Regions from separate parts of the Homo sapiens genome. Here region 2 is linked to region 1. Evidence: fine-mapped expression QTL. A gene starts in region 1. The other region holds a variant in brackets. All regions are shown on one strand. Distances are between the middles of the regions.

The links. PIP is the estimated chance that this variant, and not a neighbour inherited with it, causes the effect. A credible set is the group of variants that fine-mapping cannot tell apart.
Region 2: its variant is the best candidate, but not a certain one, in a credible set for the expression of ADAMTSL1 in tibial nerve (GTEx, PIP 0.73).

What each region holds. Positions count from the first base shown.
Region 1 is chr9:18,471,281-18,476,668 of GRCh38, reverse strand. ADAMTSL1 (ADAMTS like 1) reads right to left here and starts at 2,516. Exons shown (of 29, transcript NM_001040272.6): 1 at 2,374-2,516. The coding sequence starts at 2,436.
Region 2 is chr9:18,696,829-18,702,216 of GRCh38, reverse strand. The region is part of intron 13 of ADAMTSL1 (ADAMTS like 1); the gene reads right to left. Among named protein-coding and RNA genes, the nearest start is that of MIR3152, 130 kb to the right of the region's middle. The variant A/G (reference allele first, on the strand shown) is at 2,977.

The sequences.
Region 1 (5,388 bases):
TATAGGAAAAACAAGCCCCTCAATTCAATTTCTCTATCAAGTTTGAAGGTTGAGCTGATGATGCCACACTTCTAGTTCTAAATCAAGTACACAACAGGCTAAAGGTCACAATCTCTTAAGCCAATAATTAAATTTAATGCTAAAGGGGGCAGTTAATGAGCAAGTTTAACAAGTGCTCATGATATTGTACATATCTTTAATGATCAAGATGATGCAGAAAGCCTAAATATCTGCAACAAAGGGTACAGACCAACCTGCACCACTGTTTTCATTGTTCTTAAATATTTACAACCACCATACGAAGCAAACATGTTCTATTCTCTCCATTATTTGACCTTTGGGTTCAAATGCAAGCTTATTTCATTGCCTGAAAAAACGGGTTTAAAATGTCTTATCTGTATGATTATTGTAAGGATTTATTGTAATGATTTTCAAACAACTAGCCACATTCAGACACAAAATACATGACAGCTATTACTAATGCTGTTATTGCTTGGCAAAGGGATGTATGTAAACATCAGTCAGTTCTTCCTTTTGTAGCATAACTCTCAGATTTCCACTTAATTTAAATGCAGGCATAAAACAAACCTAGGTTTGTTTTAATTTTATCTTTATAATACAATTATTGTAATTTAAATATGATATGTTTTAAGTCCTTCTGAAATAAGCATACATACCTTTTCATTCCACATAAGTCAAATTATATGCTCTAATACATATATGAATATTCAAGATATCACAGAGGGATATAATGCGTTTACCAAATGGATAGCAAAACAATCTATTCCTGAATGGGAAAGTTTTACTAAAGTATAATGAGATCATACTTCCATATGAAAATATCAAAAAAGTAATGTATACTGGTAATTTGCTTTATGATGCAATATAATGGGAAAATAACACACACTTAAAAAAATCACAAAGAAGGAAAGATGAGACAAACTAATGGTGTATACAAGTAACACATCCCATATGGAAAAAATGAGACACCTTTCATAAATCGCTTGCTCCACAAGTCATAAAGCATACCTAAACATTCTGTTCTTTGTATTTTTCAGAACAGCTAAAACTTATAGTTCATTCATGCTTGAAATGTAGTTTACCTTTAAATTTCTATGAAAAATTAAAAATTTATTTCTATATTTATAGCACTTGCAATGCAGCATTATAATTTCTTAGCTACAATGATGCAAATCATTAAGAAGTGGGAATGTATAAAATATTGAATCACTGTCTGATTACTCTATTTGATGAATCTCCTGGACTTTTTCAGTTTGTACCAAATGGCTTTCTTCCCTACTTCAAAATTATAGCGCAGATCAGATTTGTCAGAATATAATCAGAACAAACATTCCTTCCCCATCAAGGAATCAATGCAACCTATTCATTTGCTACATTTTTACCTTGTTCTCTTCCTGCCTTGTTACCTTCTGAGGAAGTTCTGGCATGTTATAAATGTGACAGGAAAAACTACAATCACATTTGTTTGGATCAGTGTGTGCAAATTTTGGAATCAAACCTTCAGATGAGGTTTACTAAGCTGCCTGCCCAGAACACTCTGGTTTAAAAAATGTGCATTGCTATTAATATTTTGAGTGTAGATTTATTTTGGACAGTAAATGTTCATTTTCTGCCCATAAAACCAAGTATGAGTCACAACGGAACATTTACTTCGAGTCAAAAATGCAATGTGTACTGACGTTCAAGAGCAGAGCATCTTATCACTATGACTGTGGCAATCAGCCGTACTAAAAGTCACCATTCCTTTTTCTTCTTTAAAAGTAAATTTGAGATCAAAGGCCATAATCCTCAATTCATAAATCCTAGCATTAACTTCTATCCATAAATGACTTGCAGTAATTAAGAGCCATAATCTGGGTTGGCTGCAAAGAGGCTCTCATTCCCCTCTTTACCTGGTTCCATAGTACATGTGCATAGATGGAAAGTAATTCATTAAAGGCGGTACGGGCAAGCTCTGCAAAGCCTATCCATCAAAAAATTCCAGGAACACCACAGTGAGTGAGTTTAATTTCAGGATGTCTGTTATCCAAATTCCAAGCATACACACCACCATATATACAGTCCTCAGCTCCCAAACTCCATGCAGTATGTCCCAAAGTTCATGTCTCAGTATCAGTATTACTGTATAGCAGTAACTAATTCCAGAAAGTCTTGCAGACTTTATCTTGCTTGGGAAGTTGAGGTTAAAAGTTCTAGAAGGAGTATTCTCTCTTTGTAATCGTGTAAATTATTTTACCTGGAGTTTTAAGATAAAGACACACACACACACACAAACACACATACACACACACACCCCCAACAGCACCCAGACTCAATGGCAATAGCAATGCATTGAAATGAAAAGGCATTTACCAGGAGCAGGAAAGCCAGAAAGAGGAGCAGTGTGCCAGGAGTTGCCCGACGGCAGCATTCCATGCTTGGATCCTTGCCGGAATCAGAATCGGACACTGAATAAGCTGCTAAGTGCTCCTCTGCCTGCTGTCACATCCAGTACTGGTGCTAACACTCCAGTCCTGCCTATCAGCTTCCATCAGCCCCTCTCACATTTCCTGACCGAGGGGTGGGTGGGTGGATGGGTGGGGGGTAAGCTGAATGGAATCTCTCTCGGAGCAGGCAGCCAGCCAATCAGGCTCCTGCTAATCAGACATGCTGAATAACAAAGCCAGGAGGACAGAGAAAGTGTAACGGTGCGAGCAAAAAAGGGGGAAAAGGACGAAAAAGAAAGGCGAGCGAGCAGCAGAGCGAGAAGGGAAATGCAAAAGATGCAGAATTGCAAAAGATGAAGCCAAGCACTGTGCTTCCCATGGACCTGGTTAGTTCTTTGTGAGATGCATTTCTATTTGCCATTTGCCTGTGCTGATGTCTGTTGCTTTGTAAAGTACAGTAGCTCCCTGTGACTGTGTATTGTTCCATTCAGGAGAGAAACTTAATCCCTGTCAATATATAACATATGCCATAAAGGGAAAGAACCATAGACAAAAACCGACTTAATGTGCCCTGTAAATGTGTTCTGTACAACTGTTTTATTTCGCCTCCATAAAGTTCCTCTTTACTTTCTCTCTTGACTTGCAAAATAAATACTCTATACATTTTCTGAAGGTTCCTCACTAAGCCTAAACAGTGGCATAAGTTATTTTGTGTTATTAAGGACTTAATTTGGGGGGAAAAAAACAAAGCAAGTTGCTTCTCTGTAAAGTGACAATTGAAGGCATTTAAGATTTGCTAATTGTAAAGGCACAATTAGAAACTTAGATCCCCCAGTTTAAAAAGAAACCCTCAACAAAGACTCCAGGATGAGTGGGGCTGAAATTTGGGGTTGAGGAGCAGCCTGGTTTTGATGCACTGCCAACTCTCAACTATCTATTTTAGCCACGGGAGAGAAAGAAAGGATGAATTAAATCCTCAGTTAATCCCCAAACCTTCTTTTAACCAAGTTTCAGCTTCCTCCGCACCTCACCCACGTCCTTTATCAGAGCTGTTATAATGCAGAAAAGGCTGAACTGAGTTTTACCTCATTTTTCCATCCACTATTGCAAGAGGGTTGGATGGGATGACCTTGGAGGCCAGTCCAGCCCTGAAGGAAGTGCTAATGAGCAGTGAAATGACGACAAGGCCAGCAACAGCAACGAGAAGGTCAGGAAGCTTCTGAAGCTGCTTAATCCACCAGCAAGGGAGATTTGACTCTACTAGAGGAAGGTTTTATTACAGTTTTAGAAAAGTGTCAAATGTCAAACAAGGATGTATTTCCCCTTATCTGCAAAGGAAATCATTGAGTTTTGAAAGAATAAAAGAGCAGCCCTGGCCTTACATTGCCATAGGTGTGTCATCAGGACGTTTTCCCTTTTCAGATCTCCTGATAGCCCAGAAATATATGCAGTGGAGGTACAAGACATTTAGAATTAATGTTCTTTCCTTTCATTATTAAAAAATACTGACAAGAGGTATGAAACACACGAATATGGAAAACCTGATCAAGCCATAATGGGCATGTGAATACAGGCAGGTCTGCCTATGTACATACCTGCTGCGTTGCTTTTCAAAAAGGTGAAGAAAAGCAGGTTGTTCAACTTTAGGTTACCTACTTCATATGGTATATCAATTAAAGAGAGAGAAACTTTAAAAATCCTATTTTCATGCTGTTAGGAAAGTCAAGGTCATACAAAGATTATCCTTTGTTCTCAATATTAAGTATGTGGACCTAGAAAAATGGACAGTACAAATCCATAACAAAGAGAGCCCATTCTTGAAATATGCTTTTCCCTTTTAGAAAGATTTGTTTTACAAATCTCTCAAAAACTAGCTAATGCTCATAAGCTAAAGCGTATTCACAAGTAGATGTAAAAATGCTTAACTTTGTCTTTCCACTATTGTTTTTGTCTGAAATCCTCATCACATTAAAGAAAGGTGATTGATTGAAATAAACTTTCATTCATAAAGCTATGTTACATGTGTCTCTCTGTTACACACCAGAGCTTTCTGCTAAAGGGTTTATTTTTTTCCCTCCTATCACAGTCATTAACTGAAGAGTTTCAGCTAGTTCTATTAATGGAACATTTTACCTAATACCACCTCCTCCCTCTTCACACATAAACCCTGCTCATTAAGCAGATCCAAAGGGAAGAATAGGTAATGGGAGAAAGAAAAGTAGCAACAAAGCTAATGATGAGATACTATTTGTAGAGGAACAGAAAAATAATCAGCATGGTCAGAAAATAACTGGGAACCACTTACATGCTAGTTTAGATTCTTTTCTGCTTTGCAAATAAATACTGCCTAGGTATTTTGAGTCAGAAATTTCTGCCTTGAAGTTTTAATGGGCATGCTAATGTACAGCAAGATGGTCATCTCAATGAAGTCACCGAATAATATACTATTTTAAAGTTAAGCCCTCAATCACCTGTTGAATGCCTGGAGGATGCCCACCACACTGTCTCATGCTTCTGATTCCTCACAGCATTTTCTTTCCTCTTGGGAATACCCAGAGAAACTAGGAAAAGCAATTGCACATCCAGAGCTACACAGTACAGGTGAAATTACAAATTTACTATAACTTCAGAAAAGGGAGAACAAAATCAAGTTGGGTTAAGGTGACTGGGAAAAGTTTTGGTCATGAACTAATTTTGATGATGGCCAAAATGTACATGCCATCTTTATGGTTTACAAAGTGATTTTACATTTATGATCTCATTTGACCTTTGTGACTACTTTTTGAAATTAAGTAATCACCCCATTTTATGTACGTGGAAACTGAGGCTCAGAGAAGTTAAGTGACTTGACTAAAGCTTTGCTGGCTAGAACTGGCCATTGAGCCACGGTTTACCGAATCTAAATCCACCCTCATCTCATATTCATATATATGCATTATAT
Region 2 (5,388 bases), 230 kb before region 1:
CTCATAATTCCCATGTGTTGTGGGAGGGACCTGATGGGAGATGATTGAATCATGGGGGCGGGTCTTTCCTGTGCTGTTCTCATGACAGTGAATGTGTCTCATGAGATCTGATGGTTTTAAAAGTGGGAGTTTCTCTGCACGAGCTCTCTTTTTTGCCTGCCGCTATCCATGTAAGATGTGACTTGCTCCTCCTTGCCTTCCACCATGATTGTGAGGCCTCCCCAGCCACATGGAACTGTAAGTCCAATTAAACCTCTTTCTTTTGTAAATTGCCCAGTCTCAGAGATGTCTTTTCAGCAATGTGAAAATGGAGTAATACAATGTGAAAATTAACTTTTCCTTTTATCCTATTACTTTCCTCTCTCTTCCTTTCTCATATATGTTTGTTTTAAAAATCATTGGGATTATTAAAAATAAAAACAGCTTTATAGGTGTCTTATTTTGATGCTATCACTAGTTTCATGCCCTAATTTAAAAATGCAAATTGAAACATGCAGGAAGTCTCATTAAAAATACTCAATTTAGGTATAGGTTTTCAATCTTATTACATTTCAAGCCATGAGCCAATAGAGGTTGTGGATTTCTCTTTACCTGTTTGATTTGGTGTATGTTTGTGTATGTGAGTGGTGGCATGACAGTAGGGTGAGAAAAGAGAAGGGAATAAACTGAATAATATGTGAGAAAAATTAGAGTTTAAAATCGGGCACAGTGGCTCATGCCTGTAATCTCAGCACTTTGGGAGGCTGAGGTGGGCGGATCGCCTGAAGTCAGGAGTTTGAGACCAACCTGGCCAACATGGCGAAACCCTGTCTCTACTAAAAATACAGAAATTGGCCAGGTGTGGTGGTGTGAGCCTGTGATCCCAGCTATTCAGGAGGCTGAGGCAGGAGAATTGCTTGAACCCGGGAGGTGGAGGTTGCAGTGAGCTGAGATCTTGCTACTGTATTCCAGCCTGCTGGGTGACAGAGTGAGACTCTGTCTCAAAAAAAAAAAAAAAAAAAAAAGAACCCAAAAGATTACTGATTACTGGATAACTCTGTTAAGTGCATTCTTCCTAGGTTGTCTTAGCCTTTCATTGACTTTGAGCTATTATATTTTACCACCCTCTAAGTGGCAAGAAATTGATAGTGCAAATGATTCCTGCCCAGAGAAATACAGATTAACTGTGTCTAGTGGAATGCAGTTGATTGTTGCCCTGTAGCTAGACCAATTTTGCATCTATTTGTAAATTCATTTGGGCATTCATATTTGCCTAAATAAATAGGGTTTTTAAACTTCCTTTGAATTGGCTGTAACATCTTATTGGTTCCCTCATTGGTTAATGAGGTAGGTTAAATCTTTGTCAGATGTTCATTTTATATTTACATGAGAATCATGGATTTTCCCTTTTAAAAATCTTATCATTAACAAGTGGCCACAGAGGGATCTGGAAAATAGTATATTGGAAAAAGAAAATATGTCATAAGTAATTCTACTCTGAATCAAGTCTTTTCCATAAATATGTTATTTAGGACCAAAAAATTTACATACTTTACTGGTAAAATATGTAATTCCATATTGCCTCATCATTTTTTAACCCAATCTTCATTCTTATATATATTTTTTAAACTTTGAAAAGTTGATCCTTCCCCTGATTCTGGGCAATCCTTGAGACATTAATGGAGTAAAAACCTTAGGATAAAGTGCAGTTAACTAAACCTAAGCTGCACATTTTGGCATCTGAAGAGGCTTTTGGATAAATAGGGAAAAAATTACTACTGGATGAGAAAGAAACTTGGAAGAGAGAAAAGGAAACACCTTCTTTGTATTTCTACTCTTATCTACTTCCCATTTTTACATGAGATGAGAAGATCTCGTGTAAAAACTCTTTAGTTATTTAATGCCTCTCAATGATGTCAAAAAAAAGTTTTAAATAAACCCTCTAAAATAAGTAAGCAAACACCATTTGGAATGCTATAATGGAAGGGAAACTCTTCAATTGAATCACTTTAGGAATTTTAAAATTACTTGTAAAATCTATAATATTAAGGCATTCTTAAAATATAGCTGGAGCATTAAAGTTTTGAGATAATACTTATCCAAAATATCCCTCTAAATTTACTTAGAACCACGCCTAAATCATTCCACATAAATGAGAATCTAACTTATTAGGAAATATCTTTACTCAAGGATATTTAATCTGAATGTGGAATTATGAAAATATTTCTCAACTGCTGTTGTTTACAATTCTCTGGAACTGCAAATAAATCATGCTAGTTATGCAACTCATATTGAGGTCTCTAAGCAAAATTTTTCAAAGGTTCTAGGACATCACTCCTCAAAACATCTGACAGCACCACTTCTTTTCATAGATTTCTCAAATCCTCAAGTGTCAAGCCTAGGCTATGAGGCATCTTCAGCACTGTAAGGTGCCCCAGGAGAATAATCAAAAATATAATGATCCTGGAAATTAAAATAAAACAAATGATAATTTTGAAGCAGCCACCAATACAACTACTTGAAAAGAAAAAGATTGAGTGTCCCTGTCTAATATTGCTAACCAGTAATAATTTGACAGAAGAACTTAATTTAAAAAACATATTAAAGTGGCCAGGCACTATGGCTCACACTTGTAATCCCAGCATTTTTGGAGGCCAAGGCAGGAAGATCACTTGAGGCCAAGAGTTTGAGACCAGCCTGGGCAATATAGCAAGACCCCATGTCTACCAATAATAATTATAATAAGTTAGCTGAGTCTGGTAGCACACACCTGTAGTCCCAGTGACCAGGAAGGCTAAGGTGGGAGGATCTCTTGCACCCAGGAGTTCAAGGTTACAGTGAGCTCTGATTGTGCCACCGCACTCTAGCCTGGGCTACAAAGAAAGACCCAGTCTCTCAAAAAAAAAAAAAAAAAAAAGTAAAAAACCCAGCAAAACACATGGAAAAGCTATATTTACAGGCATTTTCCAAGTAACAAACAGACTTTTTCTCATGACA[A/G]TGACGCTCTTTTGGGTTGAGAGGCAGCTGGCCTCTCTGCAAGAATGCCTGAATGTCTTTCTTGCAGAAAATGCTCAGTGATGGAAGTTGGGTTAAAAAACAAAATGCTGACTGCATTAAAGAGCACATTTTCCTTTCAAAGAGACTTTATGCTAGAGGAAAATGTTGCAGGGGCTGAGTTCTCTGAAAGTTCCAATTCATCCAGAGACTACTGGCTCTTTCAAAGCCTGGGATCTTGATGTTTGAGCACTTTGTTGAAGTCATCTTGAAGTTCTGCCTTCTCTTTTCTCTGATATGGTTCTAGACAAGACATTATAAGGAGTCTTACTAACGGAGGGTCCCACTGACCATCAGGAGGCTGCTTTTCTTTAACAGTAAGAAAAAGGCCAGGGGGAAGATTGGTATCAGGTTCTAAGAACACAGGCCTTACTGTCTGCTATTCTTAACAAATCTAATCCTCATTCTGTCTCATTTCCAATGGCATTCAAAATAATTGACCATTGCTTGCAAGTACTTCTTCTTGAAATACTTCTTCCTCTTGAATTACATGACACCAAACTCTCTTGGTTTTCTTCTCTGGTTACTTCCTTCTCAGTCTCCTTTTCTAGGTCCTTCTATTCTCAAATTCAAAATATTGGCTGAGTGCAGTGGCACAGTCCAGGCATGGTGGCTTACTTTTGTAATTCCAGTACTTTGGGAGGCCGAGGCTGGCAGATCACTTGAGGTCGGGAGTTCAAGACCAGCCTGGCCAACATGGTGAAACCTCATCTCTACTAAAAATACAAAAAATTAGCCAGGCATGGTGGCATACACCTGCAAGCCCAAGCTACTTGGGAGACTGAGGCAGGAGAATCACTTGAACTCAGGAGGTGGAGGTTGCAGTGAGCCGAGATCATCATGCCACTGCACTCCAGCCTAGGTGACAGAGCAAGACTCTGTCTCAAAAAAAAAATTAAAATATTGCAGTGCCTCAGGACTTGGCTTTGTGCTATCTTCCAATGTGTTCATCAATGATTCCTAGTTTCAAATACCATCAGTGTACATGAAGCTTCTAAGAATTTAATCTCTATTCTAGAACTTTCTTCTCTGAAAAAAGTAAACATTAATTTAATTAATGTATTTATCAAAAACTTATTTAGTGTTTCTTATGTGCCAGGCACTACTCTAAGTGCTTTATAAATAAAAGTTATTAAATCTGAACAAGAACATTATCAGATAAAACTATTATTATTACCATTTAATAGACCGATGAGGAAACTGAAGCATAAGTTACACAACTAGTAAGGTTTTGTGCTCTTAACTACTTCACATTGCTATTTTTTCCTTCTTGACATTTTTGCTTTTAAGTTTCAAAGGCAGCTTCAATCTCCAACTTAAAATGTCCATAATGGAACTCCTGATTTCTCCCTTCAGTAACCCTATCGTCTTCCAATCTTCTCCACCACAGCAAAGGATTTTAATGGCTACCTAATTGCTCAAGTAAAAAATCAGGAGTTATTCTTGACCCCTCAATTTCCTTCACATCTCACTTTCAACTGATTGCCGAATTCTCTAAATTCTCCCTTGAAAATATATATAAACTCATTTACTTCTCTCCATTTCCATTACCACCACCTTAATATAGCAATAATAAGTGAACATTACACTTACATGCTTTATGCATTTTACATATACAACTCATTATGACATTGTTGGGAGATGGGTACTGTTGGAAACATTTTGAAATAGGCAAAAGAGATTACTGGTTGTCTTTTCAACGAACTGCTGGCATTTTCTAGCAAATTTCCAGGGGTGGTCTTGTTCTATGGAATTAGGAGCCTTTGATGGTCTTTGCTAGTCTGTTTTGCAACTCCATAGAGATAGAAGTTTCCCTGTAGAGGTCTGGTGGTGATACAGATGTTTCTTGTCCATAATAATATATGTATTTTTCTGTTCATGGCACTGCAAATGGTTTTGTCTGGTAGAAAATATATACTTTATTCTAAATCAAATTCTCATTTGAACTAGTTTTAACATCACATTGGCTTCCTCAATAATTTGTGAGTTAAATAAAATTTTTGGCCAGGCACGGTGGCTCACACCTGTAATCCCAGCACTTGGGGGGGCTGAGGTGGGCAGATCACGAGGTCAAGAGATGAAGACCATCCTGGCCAACATGGTGAAACCTCGTCTCTACTAAAAAAAAATACAAAAATTAGCTGGGTGTGGCGGCACACACCTGTAATCCCAGCTACTTGGGAGGCTGAGGCAGGAGAATGACTTGAACCCGGGAGGTGGAGTTTGCAGTGAGCTGAGATCACACCACTGCACTCCAGCCTGGCGACAAAGCAAGACTCCATCTCAAAATAATAATAATAATAATAATAATAATAATATTTTTGACATGTGATTATTTTATATTTTCATGAGACT